Homo sapiens: one gene and its partners. The protein of the gene in region 1 purifies or fractionates together with the protein of each later gene. This does not show direct contact. Each region holds a gene or a part of one and is shown in the gene's direction. Other genes may lie near its edges. The genes, in order: WWP1, PTCH1, NDFIP1, SARAF, SMAD1, ARRDC4 and PTPN21.

Evidence for each region.
Region 2: the proteins of WWP1 (region 1) and PTCH1 purify together in Homo sapiens (affinity purification with western blotting; 2 studies listed by BioGRID). This does not show direct contact.
Region 3: the proteins of WWP1 (region 1) and NDFIP1 purify together in Homo sapiens (affinity purification with mass spectrometry; 2 studies listed by BioGRID and IntAct, with this or other methods). This does not show direct contact.
Region 4: the proteins of WWP1 (region 1) and SARAF purify together in Homo sapiens (affinity purification with mass spectrometry; 3 studies listed by BioGRID and IntAct, with this or other methods). This does not show direct contact.
Region 5: the proteins of WWP1 (region 1) and SMAD1 purify together in Homo sapiens (affinity purification with western blotting; 2 studies listed by BioGRID). This does not show direct contact.
Region 6: the proteins of WWP1 (region 1) and ARRDC4 purify together in Homo sapiens (affinity purification with mass spectrometry; 2 studies listed by BioGRID and IntAct, with this or other methods). This does not show direct contact.
Region 7: the proteins of WWP1 (region 1) and PTPN21 purify together in Homo sapiens (affinity purification with mass spectrometry; 3 studies listed by BioGRID). This does not show direct contact.

Annotation. Positions count from the first base shown.
Region 1 is NC_000008.11:86,345,261-86,349,369, forward strand, and holds part of WWP1 (NEDD4-like E3 ubiquitin-protein ligase WWP1), read left to right. Parts: intron 1-4,109. UniProt on the Homo sapiens protein: E3 ubiquitin-protein ligase which accepts ubiquitin from an E2 ubiquitin-conjugating enzyme in the form of a thioester and then directly transfers the ubiquitin to targeted substrates.
Region 2 is NC_000009.12:95,446,371-95,450,479, reverse strand, and holds part of PTCH1 (protein patched homolog 1), read left to right. Parts: intron 1-539; coding exon 540-639; intron 640-1,156; coding exon 1,157-1,411; intron 1,412-3,028; coding exon 3,029-3,568; 3' UTR 3,569-3,569; intron 3,570-4,088; 3' UTR 4,089-4,109.
Region 3 is NC_000005.10:142,132,317-142,136,425, forward strand, and holds part of NDFIP1 (NEDD4 family-interacting protein 1), read left to right. Parts: coding exon 1-26; intron 27-3,413; coding exon 3,414-3,501; intron 3,502-4,109. UniProt on the Homo sapiens protein: Activates HECT domain-containing E3 ubiquitin-protein ligases, including NEDD4 and ITCH, and consequently modulates the stability of their targets. As a result, controls many cellular processes.
Region 4 is NC_000008.11:30,069,356-30,073,464, reverse strand, and holds part of SARAF (store-operated calcium entry-associated regulatory factor isoform 1 precursor), read left to right. Parts: intron 1-3,405; coding exon 3,406-3,823; intron 3,824-4,109. UniProt on the Homo sapiens protein: Negative regulator of store-operated Ca(2+) entry (SOCE) involved in protecting cells from Ca(2+) overfilling.
Region 5 is NC_000004.12:145,540,554-145,544,662, forward strand, and holds part of SMAD1 (mothers against decapentaplegic homolog 1), read left to right. Parts: intron 1-2,028; coding exon 2,029-2,145; intron 2,146-4,109. UniProt on the Homo sapiens protein: Transcriptional modulator that plays a role in various cellular processes, including embryonic development, cell differentiation, and tissue homeostasis.
Region 6 is NC_000015.10:97,963,613-97,967,721, forward strand, and holds part of ARRDC4 (arrestin domain-containing protein 4), read left to right. Parts: intron 1-1,987; coding exon 1,988-2,054; intron 2,055-2,282; coding exon 2,283-2,430; intron 2,431-4,109. UniProt on the Homo sapiens protein: Functions as an adapter recruiting ubiquitin-protein ligases to their specific substrates. Plays a role in endocytosis of activated G protein-coupled receptors (GPCRs).
Region 7 is NC_000014.9:88,471,286-88,475,394, reverse strand, and holds part of PTPN21 (tyrosine-protein phosphatase non-receptor type 21), read left to right. Parts: intron 1-1,592; coding exon 1,593-1,730; intron 1,731-2,929; coding exon 2,930-3,151; intron 3,152-4,109.

The DNA of each region.
Region 1 (4,109 bases):
TTTACAACTTTTTGGAGATTACTAATTCTTGGTAAAATGCTGGCCTGGAAAATTTCCATATGCGCCTATGCTTTGTGGATATAATTTTAGGGGAGTCCATGGAACACCTGAAAGTCATCCATGACACTCATCTCAGAATTTCTTGGAGCTTTTTTTATTTTCGAGGCAGGATTTCTTTCACTCCTGTCCCTGTGGCTGGAGTGCAGTGGCGCCTTCTGGGCTCATTGCAACCTCCGCCTCCCAGGCTCAAGAGATTCTCCTGCCTCAGTCTCCCGAATAGCTTGAACTACAGGCGCTTGCCACCACACCCGGCTAATTTTTGTATTTTTTTTTTAGAGATGGGGTCTCACTATTTTGCCCAGGCTCGTGTTGAACTCCTGAGCTCAAGTGATCAGCTTGCCTTGGCCTTCCTAAGTGCTGGGATTACAGCGTAAGCCACCCTGCCGGGCCTACTGGGAGCTTTTTAAAACAGTAGAACCTTCAGGTTCTTCTGTGTACTGATAAGAACTCTTACTGTAGAGATATGCTGTATATATACAGAAACACAATATTACATTTGTGTTGTGGTTTACAGTTTACAGAGAATTTTGACTAATGTTATTTGCTATTATATTACACAATAAACTATTCCTGGAGTTTAAATGATTTGCCTGAAGCATCATTCAGCTGGTGGGTAAAGTGGAATCAGGAGATTGTTGACAATGATGGTGTTCTTTCATGTATGAAGATAATGCAGTGGCTTTACCATCAATTAAATATAGTTACTGCCTTTAAATGACCTTGTCAGTAAGACTAGATGATCCCACAAGATTCCTTCTAGTTTTTAACATTTTGTGATTCTCGAGTCCTAGACTTTCATCAGAGTATCTACTCTCCTTGTTTAATATGTGCATGAGAGCTGGTGAGTCTGAGGGATGAATTGGGTAGAGAAGAGCAGTTAGCAATATCAGATCATTCATTTGGATTGTTACTTTCTTTGTATGTCTCACTTTGGGCTGGGGAGTAGGGAGGAGAGAGGTGATGTAAGTGAAATAAGAAACTTTAAGAACTTTATTGGGAGGCTGAGGCAGGAGGATGGTGTGAACCCGGGAGGCGGAGCTTGTAGTGAGCCGAGATTGCGCCACTACACTCCAGCCTGGGCAACAGAGCGAGACTCTGTCTCAAAAAAAAAGAACTTTATCTTCTCTGTTCATTTATACCTTCAGAATATTCTTTTCTTTCAGGAAGCCTTTATCAAATAAAAATGGAGACTTCACAATGTAAATGAAGATTCCTACTCAATTTTTTTTGGGTGGATTAAGTAGCTAGCTAGTACGGTTAAAGTGTAGTGCGATTGGTAAACAGTTGACTTTTCTGCACCTGTAAGATTATCTCCCTGGTAATAGGTAATCATAGCATGTTATTACATGTTAATAAACTTTGATTTCATAATTATTAGAAAGACTGTTGTTTTTTACTCTTTGTATAAAAATATGATACAATTATAATGAGCATTGGAAAATCCAATAAATTGCCCTTTATAGTGGTATCCAAGGAACTAGTTACTAATACTTAATGGAGGAAAAATGATAAAAACATACACAGATGAATTTTATTGTTTTTGCTGGCATTAAGAATTGTACTATACCTTATGTTAGTATAGCATTTCACATTTGTAAATAATAACTATATTTATCATTTGGTTCTCATGACAACTGATAAGTTGGTGTGTTAGGAAGTAATAACTGCTTTATATTTTATTTTATTTTATTTTATTTATTTATTTTTGAGACAGGGTCTTGCTCTGTTGCCCAGGCTGGAGTTCAGTGGCACAGTCATGGCTAAACTGAAGCCTAGACCTCAGCCTCCCAAGTACTTGGGACTACAGGTGTATGTCATGACACCCAGCTAAATTTTTAAAATTTTTTATAGAGATGGGGTCTTGCTGTGTTTCCTCAGGCTGGCCTCGAACTCCTGGACTCGTGGCCCTCCCACCATGGCCTTCCAAAGTGCTGGAATTACAGGCGTGAGCCATCGCTTCCAGCCAATCATTGCTTTTTGGATGAATATGCTGAGGCTAAAAAAAAAGTTTAAAAAGTTAAATTTCCAAAGTATGTGGCTAGTTAGTGGCCACAATTAGAACTACAACTAAAACCCTTATTTTTGTTCCTATGTCAGTATTCTTTTCCCACCAGACTTCTTACTCTTCATGTACAATGGAACATCATTAGTTAAGAGCTGTATGTGAAGGATTTGAATTTACCTGTTTGGAATGTGTTAAACTTTTGTACCGTGTAGAGGTAAACTTGTCAGTTTTTTCCTTTGTGTTAAAATGGTAATCTCACTGCAGTGGCTATTGGTAGGTGATATTTAAATTTGTAAGCATTGTACCACAGAATAGTTATTCTCCTGTCAAGGATAAAGCAAAAGTTGATTTCTTATCTGGAAAAGTACATTGGTGAAATGTAGATATTTATTTTTTTGAAAATTTTGAATTTAATTCTGTTGCTTTTACAGATGAAGTTTGTGTTTCCCTTTTATAAAAGCTTAGTCTTCAAAAATTTACATTTTTTGAGGATATAAATGAGGATCTAATTTCCAAAATATATATAGATTGGGTATCCCTAATTCAAAGTTTGAAATGCTCCAAAATGGGAAACTTTGAGCCACCTACATTACTCAACAGAAACATTCACTGGAGTATTTCAGATTTTGGATATTTGGATTAGGGATACTCAACCTGTATCATGATATTTTATTATTTTTGTATTAGATCATAAGCTCTACCATTGAAAAAAACCCAAAGATATTAAAAAGCCCTCCTTAGTGGATGCTTCAATTCATACATTTAAACAACTTTTTTAGGGAATGTATAATGTAAAACCATACGTCAGATGGTTTTTAAGTTATAAGGAAGACTAGCATGGTTTTTAAGTTATAAGGAAGAGTAGCATTTGTTGATTTAGTCTTGACATTTCTTTTTTCTTTTTTTTTTTGAGACGGAGTTTCCCTCTTGCTGCCCAGGCTGGAGTGCAATGGCGCAATCTTGGCTCACTGCAGCTTCCGCCTCCTGGGTTCAAGAGATTCTCCTGCCTCAGCCTCCCAAGTAGTTGGGATTGCAGGCATGCACCACCACACCTGGCTAATTTTGTATTTTTAGTAGAGACGGGGTTTCTCCATGTTGGTCAGGCTGGTCTTGAACTCCAGACCACAGGTGATCTGCCCGCCTCAGCCTCCCAAAGTATTGGGATTACAGGCATGAGCCACCACGCCTGGCCGTCTTGACATTTCTTAAATCTACAGTTCACTCACAGCACATACTGGCGTACCTACTATGTGCCAGACATATTTCTAGGTGCTGGGAGTACAGTGTTGAGATGACAGATATGAAGCCTTTCCTCTTGGAACCTGGAGTTTAGTGGAATCACTAACATTAACAAGGGCATAGAACTTTATCTTCTCAGGTTGTAATTTTGCGGAGTGTAATTAATTATACCTCTCCTTTTTCTGGGGTTTGAACAAATTATGCAGAACACACAAGGAACCAGGTGAGTGTTGTTTCAGTTATGTACTGCTGTGTAGCAAACAGCCCTAAACCAAGTGACTTAAAACAACCATTTTCTTTGTTACAGTTTTGCTTTCCTGGGTTGGGCTCAGTTGGGCAGGTTTTGCTGGTGATCACTCTAATGGCTGCTTTTCTCTCCAAGTAGCCTTTCCAGCAGAGTTGCTGGCCTTACCTGGTAGCTGATGGCTTAGGGCTCACAAGAGTACAAAACAGAAGCAACCAGATCTTTTTTTTTGAGAGGGAGTCTCACTCTGTCACCCAGGCTGGAGTGCAGTGGCTCAGTCTTGGCTCACTGCAACCTCCACCTCCCAGGTTCAAGCAATTCTCCTGCCTCAGCTTCCCGAGTAGCTGGGATTACAGGCGTGCACCACCATGCCCAGCTAATTTTTGTATTAGTAGAGATGGGGTTTCACCATGTTGGACAGGCTAGTCTGGAACTCCTGAGCTCAGGTGATCTGTCCGCCTCGGCCTCCCAGAGTGCTGGGATTACAGGCGTGAGCCACCGTGCCTGGTCTGCAACCAGATCTTCTTAAGGTTTAGACTTGTAAGGGATACAGTATCATTT
Region 2 (4,109 bases), on another chromosome or scaffold:
TGCTAGAGACTTAATTAGAGATTCTGCCGTAAGATGCAGAAGCATTTCACAGTGGATTAGCAGCCTGCAGAAGTGGGCTGCTTTTCCTCCTGGGCTAAATTGTTTAAATTCTACACCCTTCACTTCATTTGTTTGCTTCTGCTGGGTTTTCACGAGCGGGGCCCCTCGGCATTGTGTTTGTGCTTTCAGTCTGCCCAGCCATTCAGGTCGCATTCCATATTTTTGTGTTTGTGTAACACATTCATAAATAACATTACATGCCATCAGAGTTCAGCAAATTAACAAACTAATTTTTTTTTTCTTCCCTTCATGAACTAACACTTTGGGTTGTGGAATGTAGTCCTCAAAGTCATAAGGTAAAGAAACAAAAAGCAAAAACTCACCTTGTGTTGAATGTGAACTGCGGTTGGATAACAGCCTTTTCAGTGGGGTGGGTTTTGTTCATTTCTGGCGTTGCCATGCTGCTGTGTCGGGCACACGGAGGGTGGCGCGATCCACCCTGTCACAGCGCGTGTTCCCGTTTCCTCTTGATCTCCCAGGTATTTCTTTGCTGTGCTGGCGATCCTCACCATCCTCGGCGTTCTCAATGGGCTGGTTTTGCTTCCCGTGCTTTTGTCTTTCTTTGGACCATATCCTGAGGTCAGTAGTGACACGGGGATGTCCCACGTGTAGGCCGGCTGAATGCTGTGTTTCCTGTGCCGCTCTTCACTTCGATACTTAGGTGCCTCCCCACTTGCTGGTGGTTCTTCAGTAAACATCTCAGAGTCATGTCTGTTTTCCTCTTCGGTGTACTGGCTTTGAGGGCTAGAGGGCGGGTTCGGTTTGGTTCCTCTAAATCAACTGATTGGCAGCCTGGGTCTTACAGATCTTTATACAGTAAATGAAGACTTTCCCCTTGAGATGCATAATTGGACTTCACAAGAGTAAAAAGTACACATCCTGCCTTTCCAGTGTGGAGCAGAGGACAGTTCTTCTGCTCCAGCTGCGGGACCTGAAGGTCCTCCAGGTGGTAGAGAAGGGGAGGTTAATACGGCACAGTGCGCAGGGCCCCAGGGCAGGGAACAGAGGCCCCTGAAAAATACCGTGCTTTGAGCTTTGAGTGTGGCCAGCAGGTAAATGGACAAGAACACTTTTAACATGGAATCCCCTTAAATAGGTGTCTCCAGCCAACGGCTTGAACCGCCTGCCCACACCCTCCCCTGAGCCACCCCCCAGCGTGGTCCGCTTCGCCATGCCGCCCGGCCACACGCACAGCGGGTCTGATTCCTCCGACTCGGAGTATAGTTCCCAGACGACAGTGTCAGGCCTCAGCGAGGAGCTTCGGCACTACGAGGCCCAGCAGGGCGCGGGAGGCCCTGCCCACCAAGTGATCGTGGAAGCCACAGAAAACCCCGTCTTCGCCCACTCCACTGTAAGTGACTCTGCAGAACCAGGGGGAGGGGTCTTCCCACCGTGGTAGTGGGCCTGGAGGTCCAGCGGGGGCTCCTGTCTGCTGAGCAGCACATCACACAGGCAGATGGGATGCAGAGATAAGGTACAGACTAGGTCAAATCATAGGAAATAACCAGTATTTAACTCTTTCTCAACTATACAAATGCCATCTTCCTGTGGTTTGATCTCATAAAGGATAAAAAGGGCAGGGGCCAGTAATGTCACTGCACAAAGCAGTAGCATCTATCTTGTTCAGGGTGAGGACAGTTTGGGCTTCAAAGGCCAGAGATAAAGCATTCCTGCCTTTTTTTTTTTTTTCCTCTTAAGGTGCATGTCATTTGAGAGTGATATTTTCTAAAACTAGTAGTATTTTTATTGCCAACAGAGGTCAGGTTTTTTCCTTCTCTCATTTCTGTTAGGTTTCAATGCCCTTGATACAACATTCATTATTATTGTCTAAATACTTTACCATAGCTTTTGGGGCTCCAAGCTCATGTTCCAGGTGGCAGGAAAGAGCAGAGAGGCCAAGAACCACCCCTGAGTTCTTAGCCTTCAGTGATTCAGGAGGTCACCAGGAGCCTGGGAGCCCCTCCTCGGAGGCTCCAAGGACCTGGGTCCTTTCCTCCACCCTGTGCTCCCTGGGATGGGCTCAGCCCTGAAAACTCAAGGAAGGTTCTGGGCTGATGTTGCTCCACTGAGGGCCCCCTGCTGTCCCTCCAGGAAATGGGTATTCCAGTCCCAGGCCAGAGCAGCCCTTCCGTGAAAGAGAGAAAGGCCAACCAAATAACCTGAATTGTCCTCCTCCTACCCCCCGCGACGACGCCCGCTGAGCTGCAGTGTGAATCTGGTTTTGTTCAGCAGGAGCCTAAAAATAGGTACAAGCTGAACGACTTTGAAGTTGGTCACGGTCCTTTTGATTGATGTGGCCACTGTGTTGCTCTGTGCTTTGTATAGAGACGCAGAGACCAGATTCTTAACAATCAGATGGAACAGGCTGCCCGCCACAGCCCTCCGCAGTGACGAAAATGCCCTCTCTGCTTTCCAGGATGGGAGCCACCGGCCACACGTGGCTGTGGAGCACTTGAAATGTGGCCGGGGCTACCGAGGAGCTGGATTTTGGATTTTAGTTCATTAAAACTTAAGCAACCACATGTCTGGAGCGGCTACTGTGTTTGACAGAGTAGGCAGAGACAGTCCTGCCAGCGTCCTGCACTCAGGCCAGCCAGGGCCGCACACTTAGCAACTTCGGGAGAGGGGCAGCTCAGAGCCTGCAGAACCTAACAGGGTCGGGGGCAGGTTGTGGGGGGCAGCAGCTTGGATGCTCTGACCACAGCCCACATTTATGGGCAGCAGCAGTACGTGTCCAGCCAGCCGTGTCAGAGAAAGCCTGGAAACAGGATTTTCAAACAACACGCTCCTCCGCCAGGTCCTGGAGGTTATTAGAAGGACAGGCTTTTCTTTTGTGGGTGGAAGGCCCCCATTGGCTCCCCAGGGTTGACTGAGTCTTTGGTGAAACCCAAGGAGGGAAGTGTGGGAGCTGCGGGGACCATGCCCAGCCTGGGATACCACCCTTCTAACCCACCCTCACCCTCTGCAGGTGGTCCATCCCGAATCCAGGCATCACCCACCCTCGAACCCGAGACAGCAGCCCCACCTGGACTCAGGGTCCCTGCCTCCCGGACGGCAAGGCCAGCAGCCCCGCAGGGACCCCCCCAGAGAAGGCTTGTGGCCACCCCCCTACAGACCGCGCAGAGACGCTTTTGAAATTTCTACTGAAGGGCATTCTGGCCCTAGCAATAGGGCCCGCTGGGGCCCTCGCGGGGCCCGTTCTCACAACCCTCGGAACCCAGCGTCCACTGCCATGGGCAGCTCCGTGCCCGGCTACTGCCAGCCCATCACCACTGTGACGGCTTCTGCCTCCGTGACTGTCGCCGTGCACCCGCCGCCTGTCCCTGGGCCTGGGCGGAACCCCCGAGGGGGACTCTGCCCAGGCTACCCTGAGACTGACCACGGCCTGTTTGAGGACCCCCACGTGCCTTTCCACGTCCGGTGTGAGAGGAGGGATTCGAAGGTGGAAGTCATTGAGCTGCAGGACGTGGAATGCGAGGAGAGGCCCCGGGGAAGCAGCTCCAACTGAGGTGAGTGCCACTGACAAGGGCAGCCAAGGGACCTAGAGCCAGGCAAAGAGGAGGACAAGGTTCTCCTGGGGTTCTCGGCATCCCCGAGGGGCTGTGGCGCTCGGGCACATCCCACGCTGGACCCCAGTGACCTTTTATCCCCAGAGCAAGGCTGATGTGTCCAAGCTTTGTCATCCTTGGGGAACCAGTCCAGCTCCACACTGCTCTCTTCCCCCACTGCTAACCTGCGGAGGGTCGGTGCAGCGCCACAAGGACACAAACAGCACCACCTTTTACCAATATTTGCCAGTCTTTATGGAGGTGCATGCCACAGCGAATTGGTCACATGGGAACGCATCCGTGTAACCAGCCCCCAGATGAAGGGAGAGGTCACAAGCAGCCCCCAGGGACACCTCAGGCCCACACCCCACTCTCGTGATTTCTAATACCAAGGTTACTGCTGCCTGCTTTTGTACTTTATAAATACGGACTTGCACACCTCTTACTCTGTTCAACTTCCTTTTTTGCTTCCTTTTAAAGGGTGATTAAAATCTGAAGCAA
Region 3 (4,109 bases), on another chromosome or scaffold:
CTACTATCCCTTTGGTTCCTGGGAGAGTGAGTATAATTTGCCATGTTACTTGATGGCTGCTCTGTGGGAATTAAGTTATTTTCATTATCCAATTTTGATTCGTTACTTATGATTGTATTGATTAGTGAAAGTAGAGCTAATTTTAAAAATCAGGTACATTTGCTTTTGGGATAATAAACTCATCTCTTCTTAAAAATGATGAGGTAAATTACTAGTCAGACCTGCTCATTTTTCCTTCATCTCTCCTATTACCACTACTTTTTCAAGTCTCCTGGGATGGCTGAAGTATCTTGAAGCAGAAGCACACTAATGTTTCCTTGATTCTGCACACTTAATATTTTGCTGTTGGGTGGATAGCTGCTAGGGAGGTCTAGGAAGAGAATAAATATATGCAAATTTGTAGAATTAAACTCATAAGAGGGATCTTCACATTGATTTAGATGAACTCCGTTCTTCCAGCAGTCCAGATCATGTCATTTGTGGGGACATAGTGAGTTCAGATTCCATCTAGCCTGATGTTGATTCATGGAGGTGGAGATTGGGATGCCATATAAACCAGTGGAGATTATTGGGCACTCTTGGTTCTTGATGTCAGATATGTGAGTGCTGCATTTGTCATTTTGTAAATATTCATCCAGATTGAGGCTGATGAAGGTAGGGCATTGTGGGAGAATGGAAGCAGGATAAGTCCCCAGAAATGCGGGGACCATCAGGCCTCTAGGCTCTATTCTAGCAAGTAACTGGAGTGAGTGATGAGCAAGTACAGAAGCCTAGTCTGGGCAGTGTGATGGCATAGGCCCAGATGTTCCCCTCTTGGCTTTAAGATAGTAGACAGTTTGCAGACCACACCTACTGTGAGGAGCGAAGCTCCTAAAATCATTGCTTGGTAGAAATAGTTTATGAGCCCAATCTAGGATGATCCTAAATGGCGATGATGTGCATTCAGTTCTTACAGGTACCAGGGAGAAACTAAAAACCCTAGTGTCTAAGGGCAAGACCATCATAATGTAACTGCCGTATATTGGAAGCAAACCACATGCTTGGTACTGTGCTTGATGCTTTTATATATTTTGTATATTGTTTCCAATCTTCATAGTAACCTTGAAAGGTAGAGATTATATTATCTCCATTTTACAGATGTGAAAATTTAGGTCCAGAGAGAAAAAGTAATTTTCCCAAAGTCATATGACTGATAAGTAGCAGAAGTGAAAGTCAAACCCAGATATTCTAGAATCCAAAGTCCTTGTTTGTTTCACTGTACTCTGCAGATCTGTTGCAATATATGGTAAATAGATCAGTATGGAAATTAGCTCTGATTAATCACATAACTCTTCAGAATACTTTCATTTGATACAAGTACATATTTAGGAACTTCTTAAAGGGCTCTAGTATTCAGCAGACATGTATAAAGCACTTTTTAAATATAAGATGCAGTATATTTTACAGTGGATAGGTAAAAAGCTTTGTATAAGGCAGTGTTCCTCATTGTTATTCAAAAGCCTAAAATCCAACTAGGGTAAAGGGCCCACAAATACTGATAACTAAGACACATAAGAGCAGTGGGCATCAAGAACTGAAACTTTTTACTGGGTGATCATAGGGGAAAATGAGATTTGATGTGGGCCCGGAGTTTTGATGGGTAAGAACATTCCAGAGGGAAAAAGGCACAGAAAGCAGGTGTGAATTCAGCCAGGTGAAGGCAGTTCTGTGGATGTAGTAATTGGCTTTGTATGAGCAAGAGTTTGTGAAGGGAGATAGAAAGTCCTGACTACAACTGTTGTTTATAGAATCTTTGGAATGTTAGATGGGCGTATTTAAACTTCATATGTAGCTTTTAGAGAATCCTTCAGAGTTTTTGAGCAGGGGTATGAGAGGACTTGTGTGGTGTTTTGGAAACATTAACTTGGCAGCAATTTCTAGGATGCATCATGGTAGAAGAGATACCAAGAGGACAGGAAGAACAGTTAGAAGGTGTTCGTAATATTATTAGATGTTACTTCCATATATTTTTTGGAGTATATCTTTGAATAGTTATGCAAAAAACAATTAGCTTTTAATTTTGGCAAAACCTTATTCTGCTGATACGAAGTAAGAATACTAGGTATTTAATGTTTTAAAAAATTAATTATAAAAATTCGTTTTTATAGAAATTTCAAACAATAGAGGAAGTATGTTAAGTTAGAAAAGGAAGCTGCCATTGCCACCGACTTCCCTTTCTCTAGTTCCCACTCCCCAGGGGAACCACTGTTAACAATTTGGGTCTTCCAGACCCTTTTCTGTGTACAACAAGTTTTGATATTCCCTAAAATATTTTTCATTTAAGGAGCCCTCATTGAACTGTGTACAAATCTATCACTTTTAAGTATATATTCAATTATTTTTAAATATCTCAACACACACCTATATCAGTTAAAAAGATAGCCCACATGTGTTGGTATTGTTCATGATCATGTTATTTCTAGTTTTGCAATATTACGTTATCAAGTTAGGATGGAAAAGATCTTATCTGCTGATAAGGTTAGAAGTGAGATTTAGATCTGTATACCAATACAAATACATGCTTATGGAGTTGAGCAGTGGGCAGTTCTGTGGACTATTCATGTATGATCGTACTATTCTTTTTTCCCCTATATCAGCCTCGTAAAGCACTTGAGCTGGTTGATTTTATCTTTTTTTTTTTGAGACGGAGTCTCACTCTGTTGCCCAGGCTGGAGTGCAGTGGTGGGATCTTGGCTCACTGCAAGCTCTGCCTCCCGGGTTCATGCCATTCTCCTGCCTTAGCCTCCCGAGTAGCTGGGACTACAGGTGCCCGCCACCACTCCCGGCTAATTTTTTTGTATTTTTAGTAGAGACGGGTTTCACCATGTTAGCCAGGATGGTCTCGATCTCCTGACCTCGTGATCTGCCTGCCTTGGCCTCCCAAAGTGCTGGGATTACAGGCATGAGCCACTGCACCTGGCTGATTTTATCTCTAATTACTAATATTTTAGGTCCTAAACAGGTCCTCGATTACTGATATTCTAGAATTTAAACCAAATGTGTAAGTAAATTTTGTCTTTTGTCTTTTCTTGAGGTATATTTTTTTAAAGGAAGAGTAAATAGTTCTTTGTGAACTATTCTTGAAGTGTATTGTTTTTGAAGTGTATTAAATTTTTGAAGTGTATTGTTAAAGAACTTGGGTTATAAGATGAAAATTTCATTTAGAACACTGGGGATAGAAGAAAGATTTGCTTCTTTTCTAATTATATATTAATAATGCAAAATGGAATTTTAAACACACATTGAGCCTTTAATGCTCATAATTTTGAACTGAACCAAAGCAATAACTTTTTTCCTTGCTACTCAAATTTAACCCTTCATTTTTCTTTATGTCTTCCCTTTGCCTAGAAATAATTCTTTTTCTTTTCATTTAGGATGAGGATTTTGTGGGTCGGGATGATTTTGATGATGCTGACCAGCTGAGGATAGGAAATGATGGGATTTTCATGTTAACTTTTTTCAGTAAGTATGTATGCATATCAGAACCACCCCCTACAAACTAGAGTGCTTTGGATTATGGGTGAATCTGACTGAATTAAAATAACTAGTTGAGCTAATATATTAATACATTATGTTTATTTGGTGCCTTTTACTGGAATATTCAAAGCTTAATATACCTTTGTTTTAATATCCCTTCTCTTTGCCTTCTATTTTCATGAATATCTGTGGAAAATATAATTAAAGCAGTTATGAGGATGCTGCATTTTTACATGAGCTAAGCCTCATCTTCCAGGTCTACGGGGCCCTTTTGCGTTGCTTCTACTCATACTTAATCTGTAGAATAGGAATTAAATGCCTTTGATGAATTTTGCTCTGAAAGCTTCTTTTTTCTGACAGATCAAAGTCAGCCTGATTTTCTCCCTTCATGTTACTTGCCATTTATCTTTTTGTGTGCCTCACATAGAAGTGAGCAACCATTTCCTTTATTTGTTGTATTAGAAAGATAAGAAAATGCAATGCTTTTAGAGGTGATGTTATATAAGTTGTCAAAATTCAGAGAACAGGAGGATGAGTGACTTGAATCAGATTATTTGGGGGCACTTATTTAATGTTGAAGGCATTTATTTTAT
Region 4 (4,109 bases), about 56 Mb from region 1:
GCACTTGATTTTAAAATTGTCTTAGAACTGAGGGTGGTTACTTTTGAAAGGAAGCATTTCGGCAGGTTTCATTGATTGCCTTTGGGACGCTGGTGTTTTGTATACGAGCAGAGCATCTCCTTGAAGTTCCAAAACTGAATATGCTTTAGAGATAGATTTTATTAAATGAATTCAGTTTAAATCACTAGTTACATATTTCTACTTTGTATTCTGACTGCTTTCAAAATTGATTTAAGACGACTGGTCACAAGGCAAGAAACTTATGTTGACGATTTCCCCTCTCCATCAGAATGATATTCTTGTTTGATACAACCTTTATGCGTGGTCTTTGCAATTCAGAGAGGAAGTTGATGTGTACTGGGTGATACTTACTTCACAATATTTTCCCCCAGTACTGCTAAGTTGAATCATAGAATTCTCTGGGTTATAGCAGAAGTCTCACTCCACTTTACTTATGACTTTTAGAGTCTTGATGGGAAAAAAAGGCAGTAATGGTGATGTCATTCATTAAGCATGTATTAATTGCAATATACAAAAATGAATAAGGTAGAATGAAGAAACTGTCTTACTAGTAGAAGAGGTAAGACAGGCACTCAGATTACATGTAGGTCCCAACACAACATTATAAAGTCACGTCTGGTTGGAGCCATTGGGACTTAAAGGATGAGACATTTGTGCTGTGTTAGGAAGGAATGATAACATTTTTAGAGAGGAAAGGCTAGAGAAGGGAATAGCATGAGCAAAGGAGTGTTGAGCATATCATACATTGGCTTATGTTTAGTAGCAGGAGAGAGGCCATTTAGTAGCAGGACAGAAACTCCTTCTATTCCAAGAGTTGAAATTTAAATACAGTACTTAGAAGCTACTTGTAAGTACGCATGATTAAGGAAGTGGTAGTTAACATGAAATACCAATACAAGTTTAGCTTGTTTTATTTACCTAAGTCAACAAACCTATGAATCTTCCTCCAAATAAAATTATTTTAAAAACAGTGTAGTAACAGCAACAAAAGAAAAACTGCATCTTATCCAAATGAAAAACTTTTGACTATCAAAGGACATCATCAAGAAAGTGAAAAGACAACCTACAGAATGGGAGGAAGCTTAGCAAATCATAATTGGTGAGGGACTTGTATTTAGAATATAAAATAACTCTTACAACTCAGTAAGAAAACAACCAAGGTAAAAATGGCAGAGCATCTGAATAGACATTTCTACAAGGAAGATATATAAGTAATAAATAAGCACATGAAAAGTGTTCCTTATTATTAGCCATCAGAGAAATGCAAATCAAAGCCACAGTAAGATACCACTTCACACTCAGTAGGAAGGCTATAATAAAAAAGATAACAAGGCTGGTGAGGATGTCGAGAAATTGGAACCCTCATACACTGCTGTTGGGAATGTGAAATGGTCCAGCTGCTTTGGAAAATTGGCAGTTCCTCAAAAGTTTAAATGTAGAGTTACCATGTATGCCTCAGTCATTCCACTCCAAGGTATATACACCCAAGAGAATTGAAAACACATGTCCACACAAAAACTTGCATACAAATATACATAGCAGCATTATTCATAATAGCCAAAAAGTAGAAACAATTCAAATGTCCATTACTAATGAACGATAAATAAAAGTGGTATATCCATGCAAAGAAATATTATTTAGCCATAAAAAAGTGAAATAGTAATACATGCTACAACGTGGATGAATCTTGAAAATGTTATGCTAAGTGAAAGAAGCCAGTCACAAAAGACCACATATTGTATTATTACATTCCTGTGAACTGTCCATTTAGGGAAATCCATATAGACAGAAAGTTGGTTGGGAGGTGTGCGGCGGGAGAATGGAGAGTGACTGCTAATGGGCACAATATTTCTTTGGGGTGACGAAAATATTCTAAAATTGATTGTGGTGACAGTAGCACAACTGTGAATATACTAAAACCATTGAAATGGGTGAATTGTATGGTATGTGTGAATTATATTTCAATAAGGCTATTATAAATGAAGTAAAATAGTGTGAACTTTGAAAGAGGAAAATAATTTGTACAAAAATTTGCAGAAGGGCAACAGAACCAATTAAATCTACTTTAGCTTGTGTCTTTTTTCATTTTTTTTGAGACGGAGTCTCCCTCTGTCACCCAGTCTGGAGTACAGTGCAGTGACATGATCTTGGCTCACTGCAACCTCTGCCTCTGGGTTCAAGTCGTTCTCCTGCCTCAGCCTCTATTTTTGAAGTAGCTGGGATTACAGGCGCCTGCCACCATGCCCACCTCATTTTTGTATTTTTCGTAGAGATGGGGTTTTGCCATTTTGGCCAGGCTGTTCTTGAACTCCTGACCTCAGGTGATCCGCCCACCTTGGCCTCCCAAAGTGCTGGGATTACAAGCATGAACCACCGCGCCTGGCCTTTAGCTTGTATCTTAAGAGTTAAAGAAGCATATTGCTTTTTCCACCACAAAATATAGAATCTAGACCAAACTTGGGCATATATTTTTTTATAAGGTGGACATTTTTGGGGCTAGCCTGGGTTCTTTTTGCATTTTTCTAAATATCTTTAAAAAATACAAGAGAATTACATAGAATTGGACCTTGGAAAGTTAGTCCATGGTTTTATAAAATTTGTGTAGAAAAGTTTTTTTCTCTGAAGGTTATGTAATATCTCTGTTGCTTTGTGTAGCTACCAGACATTCATATATGATGCTGTTTTGAGCCTTAACATCTTTTAAGAAATCTGGATTTTTAAAGAAAGCATCTTGAACAACAGTGGCAAAAAGTTGACATTTTGGCAGTTTGCTTAAATTTTATAAATTGTAGAATACTTAATATGTTCAGATGGATATATAACATGTATATGTAAAGAATAGTAATAAAACGAATACTCATATACGCAATATCCAGCATAAGAAGTAGAACACAGATACCACCATTATCTTTGAAGCCCCTCATTTTCCTTCCCTTAGACATGAATACTTACCATTGTGAATTTTGCGGATCATTCCCTTGCTTCATTTTGCAATTTTATGACGGATATATAGCCCAAGTAACATTTTTTTTTTTCTTGAGACGGAGTCTTGCTCTGTTGCTCAGGCTAGAGTGCAATCACGATCTCAGCTCACTGCAACCTCCACCTCCCAGGTTCAAGTGATTCTCCTGCCTCAGCCTCCTTAGTAGCTGGGATTATAGGCGCCTGCCACTGCGCCTGGCTAATTTTTGTATTTTTAATAAAGATGGGGTTTCACCATCTTGGCCAGGCGGGTCTTGAACTCCTGACCGCGTGATCCACCCGCCTTGGCCTCCGAAAGTGCTGAGATTACAGGTGTGAGCCACTGCGCCCGGCCCCCAAGTAACATATATTAAATGAAAAAAATGTTTGTTTCTAATAGTCTGTTTCTATTTTTCTTCACAGTGGGAATGTAAGACGGACTTAGATATTGCATACAAATTTGGAAAAACTGTGGTGAGCTGTGAAGGCTATGAGTCCTCTGAAGACCAGTATGTACTAAGAGGTTCTTGTGGCTTGGAGTATAATTTAGATTATACAGAACTTGGCCTGCAGAAACTGAAGGAGTCTGGAAAGCAGCACGGCTTTGCCTCTTTCTCTGATTATTATTATAAGTGGTCCTCGGCGGATTCCTGTAACATGAGTGGATTGATTACCATTGTGGTACTCCTTGGGATCGCGTTTGTAGTCTATAAGCTGTTCCTGAGTGACGGGCAGTATTCTCCTCCACCGTACTCTGAGTATCCTCCATTTTCCCACCGTTACCAGAGATTCACCAACTCAGCAGGACCTCCTCCCCCAGGCTTTAAGTCTGAGTTCACAGGTATGTTTCCCTCGCAGTGGCCATAAATAGAGCGGGTGTGAGGTTAGTGCATCCTGTGCTTGGTTCTGAAATAGAAAATCGTTGCATTGGGAAACCAAAGGAGGTTTGTCTTCTCATTTTGTTTTTTACTTTCAACTTCTTTTACCTCTTCTGTTTGGCTCTCTCCCAAGGTATATTGTGGTTGCTATGTTAATGCCTGATTGGCCGGGCGCGGTGGCTCACGCCTGTAATCCCAGCACTTTGGGAGGCCGGGGTGGGCAGATCACTTGAGGTTGGGAGTTTGAGA
Region 5 (4,109 bases), on another chromosome or scaffold:
TTTAACAACAAAGGAATTACAACAGAAGTACTGGAAACCATCTGCTTGTTCAACTTAGCAAAGACAAAAAACAATTATCCTCTTTTTCTAGACATAACTGTTGGTGTAATGGTTATCAAAATAAATGATTAATAAGGACATTATATATTTTTAAGTTACAGGTTAATGAGCAAGCATCTCCAAAAAAAAAAAAAAAAAGAGTGCCAAATTTCTTGCCAGTAGACTTTAAGAAAGATACCCTAAACAAAAATATACTTAACATCTATTAATGTTTTCGGAAGGGAAAATGACTGGGCAAGTGTGTTTATTGGGCTGCTTGAAATGTTTTTAAGTAAATTTGAATTCAACATCAGTGCTAGGCCTTCAAAAATTGAAAAGTGGTCCACATTTATATTGCTTTCTTTTATTTATGTATTTATTACCTTCTTTTATTTAAATCTTGTTTATTTCACATTGTTTTGTCCGGTTTTCAGTCCAAAGCTGTTTGGGATGAGGGTTGGGAGACAGACTAGTTTAAAAATCAAAGTAACTGGTGACTTCCTGTCTACCTCTCTCCCTTCCTCCTCACCACTAACCTGTATGATGGGCAGGTTAGTGGTGAGGAGATACATTTCAGAAGACTTTTGAGCAGTGGCAGCCCAGAGTGGCCCCAAGATTGAATTAAAGGTTATTGCTTGAATTTACACTTTGTCCCTAAATGTCAGGGATTAAGGCAAAGGCCAAGTAATGGAAATATGGAAAACAGTTGCAAGGGATGGGAGGAGGTGCCTGTAGGAATAGTAGAATAGTATCAAGAATTATCGGGTTCCTCTTGGTTGTGCTGATGCCATAGGTTGCCAATGAAATTTTCACCAGCTTCTTGGCAGAAATTCATTGACTTGGGCTCAGAGGAGGCTCTTTGTCTTTGTTCCTGGCTTGAGATAAAGCCGAGTCAGCCTTACAGCTGCAGAGAAGAGGCTGAATTAAAAGAAGCTGAAAAGGGGCAAAAGAGGCATCCAGAGAAGGTCCCAGTAGTCCCATCTCAGTACTATGAGTTGTTGCTTGTTAGCAGCTGGATGTGAAGTTACCAGGTTGTGATTCAGCTGGAGAGTGAGTCTTGGAAATCACTGGGGCTCTCTGAAGGAACAACATGAGTTGTTTGTATTTGACAGTTGCTCTGAGTGGTCTCGATTACTTATCCAAACATTCACGATTCCCTCAGGTAAAATTTTGTCTCCAAGGCTCTGACACATATGCTAGATGGGCTCATGATAGCTAGTGAGGAGCTTGCTTTTGGATGGAAAAGGATTATTTGTGAGAAACCTATACCCTTTGTTTTATATTAAGAAAATGCAAGACTTGTGTTAGTGTTCTTTGTTTAAAAAATCATGTTTGCCTCTTATTTGCCAGAAGAAACATATATGTAAATTCTGAAATAGGAGATAGCTGTGATAAACTGATTCATTTTCTGTTATTCTGTTACTAGAGATTTTAAAGCTAGTGATTATTTAAATGAGTAGGGAGAGTGTGGTCCTAACAGATTCCCTAAAGTCATGGAAAATTAACAGTTCAAATCAGTAGGCTATAATGAAACTTGGTGAATTTTCTAAAAGCCCATAGATTTAATGCAAAAGACCCTGAAGCTCCTTTTCTTAAGAAGTCCAGTGAAGCTTTCAGAGGTTTTCCATCTATCAGTGAAACTGAAATGCAGAGGTCCTCTCAAAGCAGATTATATTAAAGTGTGCTTAAAATACTCTTCTGATTGCTTTTAAACAGCATGATCCTGCATAGGCAAACAGCTTCTGGAACTGGCATATAGTATAATTCTTTTCCTCCCACTGAATTTTCACAAAAATGTATATGATTGTGGCATGGTTAATACTTTTCAGAAATTGTACATCAAGGCAGTGCCTGTAGCCTTTAGTCTTTTAATGGGGAGATTGAAATGACAACTTGATCTCTTGAGAATTTCAGTACAGAAGAGGATACGTGTTTTGAGCATGTATGTTTACTAAGGGTTAAGAAATAACTTCTTTAAAAACTTTGTAGCTGATACGCCCCCACCTGCTTACCTGCCTCCTGAAGACCCCATGACCCAGGATGGCTCTCAGCCGATGGACACAAACATGATGGCGCCTCCCCTGCCCTCAGAAATCAACAGAGGAGGTAAAACTAATTGCTGCCTGTTCCCTTTTTTAGAGTCTAAAGTTTGTCCAGATGTTACTTTCTCTCACAAATTTTTATTAGTCTTTAAAAAGAGAGCTACTTGAGAAAAATAGAGTCCAATGTTAAGAGAAGCTCACTACAATTGCTGGATAACAAGTAAGTCTTTAATTTAAAGAACAAATACACTGACTTAACTAATGAAGATCTGAGAATAATTTTGCAGTTATCTGTTTAGATCTTTAATACTTAATAATTTTTAACTGATGATGAAAATTTTTTTTTTGTTTTTTTTTGAGACGGAGTTTTGCTCTGGTCACCCAGGCTGGAGCACGATCTTGGTTCACTGCAACCTCCACCTCCCAGGTTCAAGTGATTCTCCTGCCTCAGCCTCCTGAGTAGCTGGGATTACAGGTGCACACCATCACGCCCGACTAATTTTTGTATTTTTAGTAGAGACAGGGTTTCACCATGTTGGCCAGGCTGGTCACGAATTCCTGACCTCAGGTGATCCGCCCACCTTGGCCTCCCAAAGTGCTGGGATTACAGGCGTGAGCCACTGTACCCAGCCAAAAAGAGTATTTTTAAATGAACAAAATGGTATTTAGAAACAATAAGTATAACAGTACTGAAGTAGAGTTTTCACTGGTGATTTCCAAAGTTGGAAGTTGGTATAACTGGGCTGTCCAAAGGCTTTCTTCTGTAATTAGGATAGATACACATAAACCCCGTCTGTTTTTCAGCTCTTATGTATGTGCAACTACAACTGGAACAAACTAATAGAATTTCTTGCTATTTGTTTCTAACTTTGTTACTAAAAGGAATTGAGGCACAAGTTTTTCCCCTTCTCAGCCTGAAGAACTTGCAAGCAGAAATGAAAAATTTCTTTCCCCCTTTAGTAAAGGGTGGGTCTTTGATTCCAGCGCTGTATATATCCTTAGCAGTGACCGAGTGGAGGATGCCATCATTCTTCCAGCTCTACATAGGCAAGTAGGATAGACTTAAGTGAGCAGAGAACTCAGGTAAATAAGTTCGGTAGACTCTCTGAGAAATCTGTTAGAATCCACAGCCACCCTGGCAAATAAAACTGCTCCTAAATAACCTCTCATGAAAGAAAGTGCTTTGCTGCTGCACTCAACACATGGCATGGGTCATGCAATTTATATAATGTTTATGCAAATTGAAGTTAAAGTACAGTTTGGTTACTAGGTATGTCTTGTTTCATTTTAGTGCTTTTTTATTAAAATAGGAGATACTTATTAAAATAGGAGTTGCTTATATTTTTAAGTACTTAAAATTGATTTTGTCTCTATGACACATTATACAGTGGTAACTGCATGTCATTATACATTTATCCAAACCCATAGGATGTACACCATAAGTGAACCCTGACGCAAACCGTAGACTTTGGTTGTAGGTCTGTAGGATGAATGTCGGTTCATCAGTTAAAACAAATGTGCCACTCTGGTGGGGGATATTAATAATGAGGGAGGCTAGGAAGGTGTGGGGGTGGGGGGCATATGGAAAATCACTCTGTCTTATACTCAGTTTTGCTGTGAACCTAAAACTGCTTTAAACATCGATTTAAAAACTGGTGATGAAGGCTGGGCGCGGTGGCTCACGCCTGTAATCCCTAGCACTTTGGGAGGCCGAGGCAGGTGGATCACCTGAGGTCAGGAGTTCAAGACCAGCCTGCCTAACATGGTGAAACCCTGTCTCTACTGCAGATGCAAAAATTAGCTGGGTGTGGTGGCGGGCCCCTGTTGTCCGAGCTACTTGGGAGGCTGAGGCAGGAGAATCACTTGAACCCAGGAGGCAGAGGTTGCAGTGAACTGAGATCACACCATTGCACTCCAGCCTGGGCAACAAGAGCAAAACTCAGTCTCAAAAAAAAAAAAGAAAAAAAAAATTGGTGATAAACTCAAAGGACCTTTCTTGGATGTGCAGTGTCATAAATTGGAATGTAC
Region 6 (4,109 bases), on another chromosome or scaffold:
GTCCTGAAGATGTCGGGCCCACCCATGTTCCTATGTGGGTGCTCTAGGTTCTAGCACTCCATGGTCATTGCTTGTGTACAAGCATGTAATCTCCTTTCCTCCCCCGGTCTCTTTGAGGATTATCTGCGGTGCCTGAAATCTAAGCACTACACATTTTAAACTCAAATGAAATACACATTTCAAAACATTTGTAAATACTTCGTCATGTTCTGTAATCTAGTAATTTCAAATTAGAACTTTAGCCCAGCTCTTTTAGGAGCACTGGGATTGCCTTGAGCCTTTCACTCCACAGCTGTCAGGTCGAGATGCTTCCCTGGTCCCTGCTCTGCTGCTACCTTCCTGAGCACACGTCAGCCACTGGGACCCGCCCTGCCACTGAATTTAACATGATCTCATGCCCCTGTGACTTGTTCTTCACTTTGCCTCCAGTCACCCAACTGTGGAGTATTCAAATTGACTTAAGTGGCAGGTGTGTCACTTTTTTATCCCCCTTGATGTTAACACATTAAAAATTGGGGATAGATTCAGAAGACCTAATAGGTCAGTAATGTGTTCCTATTTTCTAAAAGTACGAAGTTGAAATGTCAGCTGACTTGGTTAAGGTCATAAAATAAAACTCTATTTTTTTATTTAAGGGATAAAAAATTCCCATTTCACTACTGATTTCTTTAAATTTTTTTTTTTAGTGAATGGATAAAGTAGAAATCTTCATTTTAGTGTCAGATGACCAGGCAAATCTCAGAGTTCTGTCTCTGTGTTCCGATTTCTTCATCTTATTTATCCTATCCACAATAAGGGAATTCAATATTAAATCTGAGCATGAAATGAAAGGACAGTGTATAAGTCTCTCAAGAGAGCCTCCTGACCAACCGTGAAAGCCATGAAGTCTACTTTGGATCTGAATTAAACAGATTGTCTTGGTGCCTTCATCAGAGGTTTCAGTGGTGCCTCTGGCCTTACAAAGTCCCTCCACACCCTGCATTTTGGCCTTCTCACAATCTAGTGATAAGCTTCTGCCTGAAATAAAATGGAGCTGGTAACCCAAAGCTGAGAAAAGGGCCCTGGCCATGCTTGGTAAAGCCCTTTCTGTATTCCAAGTTAGCCACCAAGAAACTCTGTGTTAGTCAGGAGAGCTCAAGGATACATACATGACTTGCTTAATAGCTTGTCTTGTGGGTTTGGCTGTTTTGTGTTATACCCAGTATTAATGATATTCATAAAGTTTTCACTCCCTTTTCCATTTCTGCTCAAAGAATACTCAGTGTGATGTTTCTGGTATACCCAAAATAAATCTGTCTTTTGCTAAATTAGTTTTTGGTCCAATTTAATATTGGTATTTCCCGTTAGTATAATAGAATGGGGGTAAGCAGTTGTGATTTTTACATACACACACACACACACACACATATACATATCCATATACACATATATATGTATGTTGGAGTTCTGAACCTTAGCACTTTAGTAATTGGTCTATTTGAGAATGGAATATATGTGTGTATGTATGTGTGAGTGTTATGGTACTTGGTAAAAACTGGCCAAGTGCAGTAGCTCACCCCTATAAGCTTAGTGCTTTGGGAGTCCAAGGTGGGAGAATCGTTTGAGGCCAGGAGTTCGAGACCAGCTTGGGCAATATAGCAAGACCCTCGTCTCTGGAAAGAATTATTAAAAATTAGTCAAGAACCATGGCACATGCATATAGTCCCAGCTCCTTGGGAGTCTGAGGCAGGAAGATTGCTTGAGCCCAGGAGTTCAAGGCCGTAGCACTCTGGCCTGGGCAATAGAGCGAGACCCTGTCTCTAAAACACATAGACACACGCACACACACCCCCCTTCAAACTTAATTCTCTACATTTGTTTAATGAACTTTTGGAGTATGCTGCATTTTGTAGCGAGAAAAACTTCCTTCAAAAAATTATTTACATTGTGAAAACTCTTGATCTAATACTAACTATCCTTCATTAAAATAAAATACAATCTCTTATAGGTGAAGGCATCATTTTATTACAGCCTGGAAAACATGAATTTCCATTTCGCTTTCAACTTCCATCTGAGTAAGTGAAACACTACAATTTTGTGGTTATCCTTCTCTGCAGTATGTCCATTCAAGTTTATCACTGCTAGGTCTCTTCTGATTCTCAAGTATGCATGTTTACACTGAATAGTCCCTAAATAGACTTACTCTTTTTTTATTTCCAACCTAAAACATTTTAAACCATGCTTTTTTTGGCTTTGTTTAACTGAAAAGTAAACTCATAATTAATGTCTTTGGTTGGTTTCAGACCTTTGGTCACCTCGTTTACTGGGAAATATGGAAGCATTCAGTACTGTGTGCGGGCAGTGTTGGAACGACCCAAGGTACCTGATCAGAGTGTAAAGCGGGAACTCCAGGTTGTTAGTCATGTCGATGTCAACACACCAGCATTATTAGTAAGTTCTTCCTTTTTCTCTTCCTCCTCCTTTTCCTCCTTCCCTCCCTTCCTCCTTCCTTTCAACAGTGGGATCTATATTTAGCCAGTTTACTGGTAGTCTGTCCTGTCACTTTCTGATGGCTTGGAAAACACAATCTTGTAACCCAAAGGCATTCACTATAAATATATGATTCTAGGTTGGACAAATTACAAATTGTGTGTGTTAATACTATTGATTATGTCCCTGCTGTTCAGGGCTTCTTTTGCCAAAAAGTTACACAGGCTTGAAATGCATTAATAAGGCTTAATAACAATAATGCACACACAGAGAGTAGTTACTTTTACCAGAGTGGCCACATTTACAGGACTGGGGTATTCTAAACTCCTCAATAATAGCAGGTTGAGGAACAGTAATTATGGAAGAGTATTAATCATGCTCAGCCTGTTATTGAAGCTCAGGCCATTATGCTATGTATCCTTCCATTTTGCATGTCATTTTCTAACATTAAGTAAGTGCATGCAGCTGCCGCCGAGATCCTTTCACTTATCATTTCCTTATGACAGATTTGGCCACATTAAAGCATTGAACTTCTAATAATCACCAGAAATACTGTAGACTGATAAGAAAGATCAGGCTATAAGTAACAACAGAATAGGCAAGATGGGAGCTAATGAGCTAGATTCTTTTATCTAAACCCATATTATCAAAATAATATAAAATTATACCTTGTACTTTCATGATAGCTACTAGGACCTAATGGTTCTTCATTTAAATATGAATGAATGATTTTTTTTACTTCATAGAAAATACTGAGATAATTTAAACTTTCCATCACGATACTGATGTGACAAAGATGTATTTTTCATGTTGGAGGTTTTTCTAGCCTGTGTTTTTAAAGACAAGGAAAAAGCTAGCAGTTAGAAGTTGTTGTTTAAGTCTTATTTTCGCATGAGAAAGAAATAGAATTTAATGTTCACCTTTAGATTATGAAAAGATAGCAGATATGCTGTGGTTCCATGGCCTCTTGTGGTCAGAATCATAAAACAGCCGGCACCCAGCTGGCCTGGCTTATAGCTGGGACTTTAACAGCCGCTTGAAAACCATTTTTGAAAAATTGGTGATGCCAAGTAGCTTGTATTTTTAAAAACTACTTAGAATTGGGAGGCTGAATATTTTTAAAGTTTTTATGACCATTGTGGGAATTGATTTAAAGGGATTTGTCTTTGCCAAAAACAGACACTGTTGATCCCTTACGATTCTTTATATAAATAAAAAAAAAATATTGCAAGTAACTGGGTTTTACAGAAAGCTTTGGTGTGTGTAACTCGTAAACTGAACATTGTAAATCTTGTAGTAACTTCTCTTGCCACTATAGAATAGAATACTGCAGTGAGAGGGTATGTTTAATAAGCTTTTCAGATCGGTTAACACTACACATGTTATTGCACTATTACACAAAACCCCAAAACCACTCCAAATTAAGAACACATGAAATTTCTGCTTGATAATGCATTTTGAAGTAAGTGGTGGGAAAAGGCTGTTTGTTTATTCCACTTTATTAAATGCCAAAATAAATATAATGTTCTGATTATTTTTTATTTTTATATCATTTATCCTTCCACCTGACTTTTATATATAAAGTCTTAAAAATAATTCTGTCATGTTTATAAGTCCTAATACAGCTTTTGATTTTTTTT
Region 7 (4,109 bases), on another chromosome or scaffold:
AATATTAATTATAAAATTAAAAATTAATCCACTTAGCTTATTGAGTTAGGTACCAATCACAGTCTCCAATTACAGCAGCAATCTTTTAGGATTTTTTTCCTCTCTCACCAAGTTGCCTTTTCCCTCTGTTCTTGCACCATTATCATGGGGCTTCATGGCCTGTTACAGGCTGAGAGAGCTGGAATAACACGGATTTTGTTTACAGGGCAGAACCATTATTTTCCAGTTGGGGCTACTCATTATATTGATATCATCCAAGGAAGTGTAGTATATCCAACGAAACTTAGTGTTCTTTTTTTTTTTGGAGACGGAGTCTCACTCTGCCTCCAGGCTGGAGTGCAGTGGCACGATCTCAGCTCACTGTAATCTCCACCTCCCAGGTTCAAGCCTTTCTCCTGCCTCAGCCTCCCGAGTAGCTGGGATTACAGGCATGTGCCACCACGCCCAGCTAATTTTTGTATTTTTAGTAGAGACGGGGTTTCACCATATTGGCCAGGATGGTCTCAATCTCCTGACCTCGGCCTCCCAAAGTGCTAGGATTACAGGCGTGATCCCCCGCACCTGGTCAACTTAGTGTTCTTATGCTTACTATTCTCAGAGAGGAAAATCATGCTCTAATAATAATTTTAGGAAACACTTGATTTCAGGAGACAAGATTTTGTTGATGCTTTCTCTTCTGTCCTATCCTCCTGGTGTCATGATGGAGATTTTAGCCCTGTTTTATTTTCCTTGTTTAAAAACGTAGCCGTTCTGAGAGGTAGCGTGATCTAACCCGGGTCATCTAAGTCTGCACTAGAATGCAGAGTAGCATATGAGGAGGGGGCTTAACACACAAAGGGGGCTGCTGCAGAAACCATTTAATTTTTCAGAATGACTTAAAGAATTTATATATTTTAAAAATTATAAAAAGCTGTCCGGGCATGGTGGCACACGCCTGTAATCTCAAGCACTTTGGGAGGCCAACACTGCTTAAGTTCAGTTGTTTGAGACCAGCCTGGGCAACATAGTGAGACCCCATCTCTACAAAACACACAAAGATTAGTTGGGCATGGTGGCATGTGCTGGTAGTCCCAGGTACTCGGGAGGTTCAGGTGGGATTGCTTGAGACTGGAGGTTGAGGCTGCAGTGAGCTATGATGGTGCCCCTGCATTCCATCCAGCCTGGGTGACAGAGTGAGACCCTCAAAAAAAAAATTTATAAAAGCTTACTATAGTCAATTGATTGCATTTAAAGCTTTTGTTTTTTTTTTTTTTTTTTTTTTTTGGACTTCAGCTGATTTGTTACGTCTGTCTTGTTTTAAAAGGAATGCAGTCTGCCTGGAGCCTCACCTTTCATTACAACAGAACTTTGTAACCAATAGTGTTTCAAAACCTTCTATCTGGAAGACTTTATCAGGGCTTTGGCCTTGAAAGGAATGTCTTCCTACTAATGTTTGTTAAACAAGTGGTGTGTGAAGGAGTGTAATCTTTCTGGGTTTATTGGCAAAGGAGAACACTCCCTCTGTGTGTTCCTGGTCTTCAGTGCATTGAAACTTCTTTTCACAGGGGTTGTATTTGTGTATATTTCATATATACATATAAATCCTTTTACAGGGAATGAAAAAGACTCGAGTAGATGCAAAAAAAATTGGTCCTCTTAAACTGGCTGCCCTAAATGGACTCTCCCTATCTCGAGTGCCTCTGCCTGATGAAGGAAAGGAAGTGGCTACCAGAGCAACGAATGATGAAAGGGTATGTATGGGACACACAGGGCTTTGTGCCTTCTCTGGAACAACCGGTAAATACTACGCAAATGCCTTCATGAGATTTTGGTGAATTTTCTAACACAATTTAATAATAAATGAGTGTTAAGGAATTTTGTAATATGGGCCTCAAAATTGGGGCAAATGTATAGCTAATGTCTTAATAGATAATTTCAGGTTCGAATGCTGATTTTTTGTTTGTTTGTTTCTCAGTGTTCTTTTTTACCTTCTCCTGGCCTTTTGGAGCAGTCTTGATTTTGATGGCCTTAAAGTGAGAAGAAATCTACAAAAATACAGGAGCATACAGGGGAAAAGCAGCAGACATTGACTTTTATTATACTGAAAGTTTATCTCGAGAGTAGTTTCTCAATTTTTCAAAACTTCCTTTGTGCCTGAGGTGTATTTTCTATGAGGTTTTATTACATCAAAATCAGATAGGCATACATTTGCTTTACAACGGGATCCTGGAGGTAGTTTCGAATATTTCCTACTGCTTTAGTCTTTTATATATCGTATGACATAAAATGGAAACATTTGTTCATAGCTGTTGGAACTCATTATCCGTCCCCTAGATTTACTTACTGTTCCCCAGGAGAATTCCATCTATTAGGGGTCACAAAATTGACCACAGATCTAGAGAAAATGAATTCAACAAATTTCTTTAGGCCAATTTTCAACTTTAAACAAAAGTTTGCATTATATTTCTCACCAAAATGATTGTCTTTTGTTCTTTTAACTCTTGTTGTTGTGGCTTTTTAAAATTTTAACTTCATTTTCACCTAGAATTTTGTTTCTGTTTTGGTTTTGGTTTGGTTTTTTTGAGATAGGTTCTCATGGTTCACTGCAGCCTCAACCTCCTGGGCTCAAGCAATCCTCCTGCCTCATCCTCCCAAGTAGATGGGACCACAGGCATGCACCACCACACCTGGCTCGTTTTTTAATTTTTTGCAGAGACGGGGTCTCACTGTGTTTCTCAGGCTGGTCCTGAACTCCTAGGCTCAAGTGATCCTCCCTCCTTGGCCTCCCAAAGTGCAGGGATTACAGGCATGAGACACCGTGCCCAACCTAGAATTTTCAATATTATACAGTGCTAGATTTGAAGCAGAAAACAAGATTTCAAATATACAGTCAAAAGGTAGCCACGACGTGTGGCTGTATTCATGTTATTACACATATTCTGTTTTATAGTGTAAAATTCTGGAACAACGATTAGAACAAGGAATGGTATTCACAGAATATGAAAGAATTCTTAAGAAACGGCTAGTTGATGGGGAGTGCTCAACAGCACGACTCCCTGAAAATGCAGAAAGAAATCGATTCCAAGATGTTCTTCCTTATGATGATGTGAGAGTGGAGTTGGTCCCAACTAAAGAAAACAACACTGGTTACATCAACGCATCACATATTAAGGTGAGAGGAACGCCTCAAGTAATCAACAGCACATGCAGTTTCAGTTAAGTTACAAGAATGGTAAGAATTGTATTCATGTCTGTTTAGAATTCAGATATTTTAAAATTTATTTTTATTGTATTGTTTTAGATAAACACCCTAGTTTTAAACATTTGTGACAAACTGTACTGCAAGCTGGGAAATCCACATACCAGTGCTAGATAAAAAGCGTCTATCAGACAGAGCCAAAGTCATGTCTACTCTCCATGTGCGAAACCACTCTGCCCCCAACACTGTTACCAGGACTCAGGGCGCACTTATTTGCCCGGCTTTTTTTTTTTTCTTTTGCCTTTTTTGAGATAGAGTCTTGCTCTGTCGCCCAGACAGGTGGAGTGCAGTGGTATGATCATGGCTCCCTACAGCCTTGACCTTGTGTTGCCTGGCTTTAGAACTTTGTCCTTCTAAATCTGAAGACCTCTTTTTAGCTCATAAATTCTGGGAGCCACTGAATTGCTAGTTTTTCCTCATCACATACTGACATGCATTTTTATGTAACAAAAGTGTCTGGGCTTTTTGATGGTGTTCACAAAAGCTTTCAACTTACCAAGGTGCCATCTGTTCTCTTTACATACTCTTTATAATAATTTTTAAGTATCATTTTTTTTCTTTGAAGAAGTGCTTTTTTCCTGGAACCAGTATAATGCCATTAAACTGGGGTAATGTTTATGGTGAGAGATAGGGGGTCCAGTTTTACTTTTCTGCTTATGGATATCCAGTCTTCCCAGTCCCATGTATTTAAGAGGCTGTCCTTCCCTAGTGTATGTTCTTGGCACCTTATCTGGGGTAATATCACTCCTATGAAAATGGACAAAATGATGATTCACAACACATGATGGAATAAAGCCAGATGTTCCCTCTTCCTCATTGTACCCTTTGTTCATGCTGGCCACATTCAATTCTTTATTTTGGGAAGGAGAAA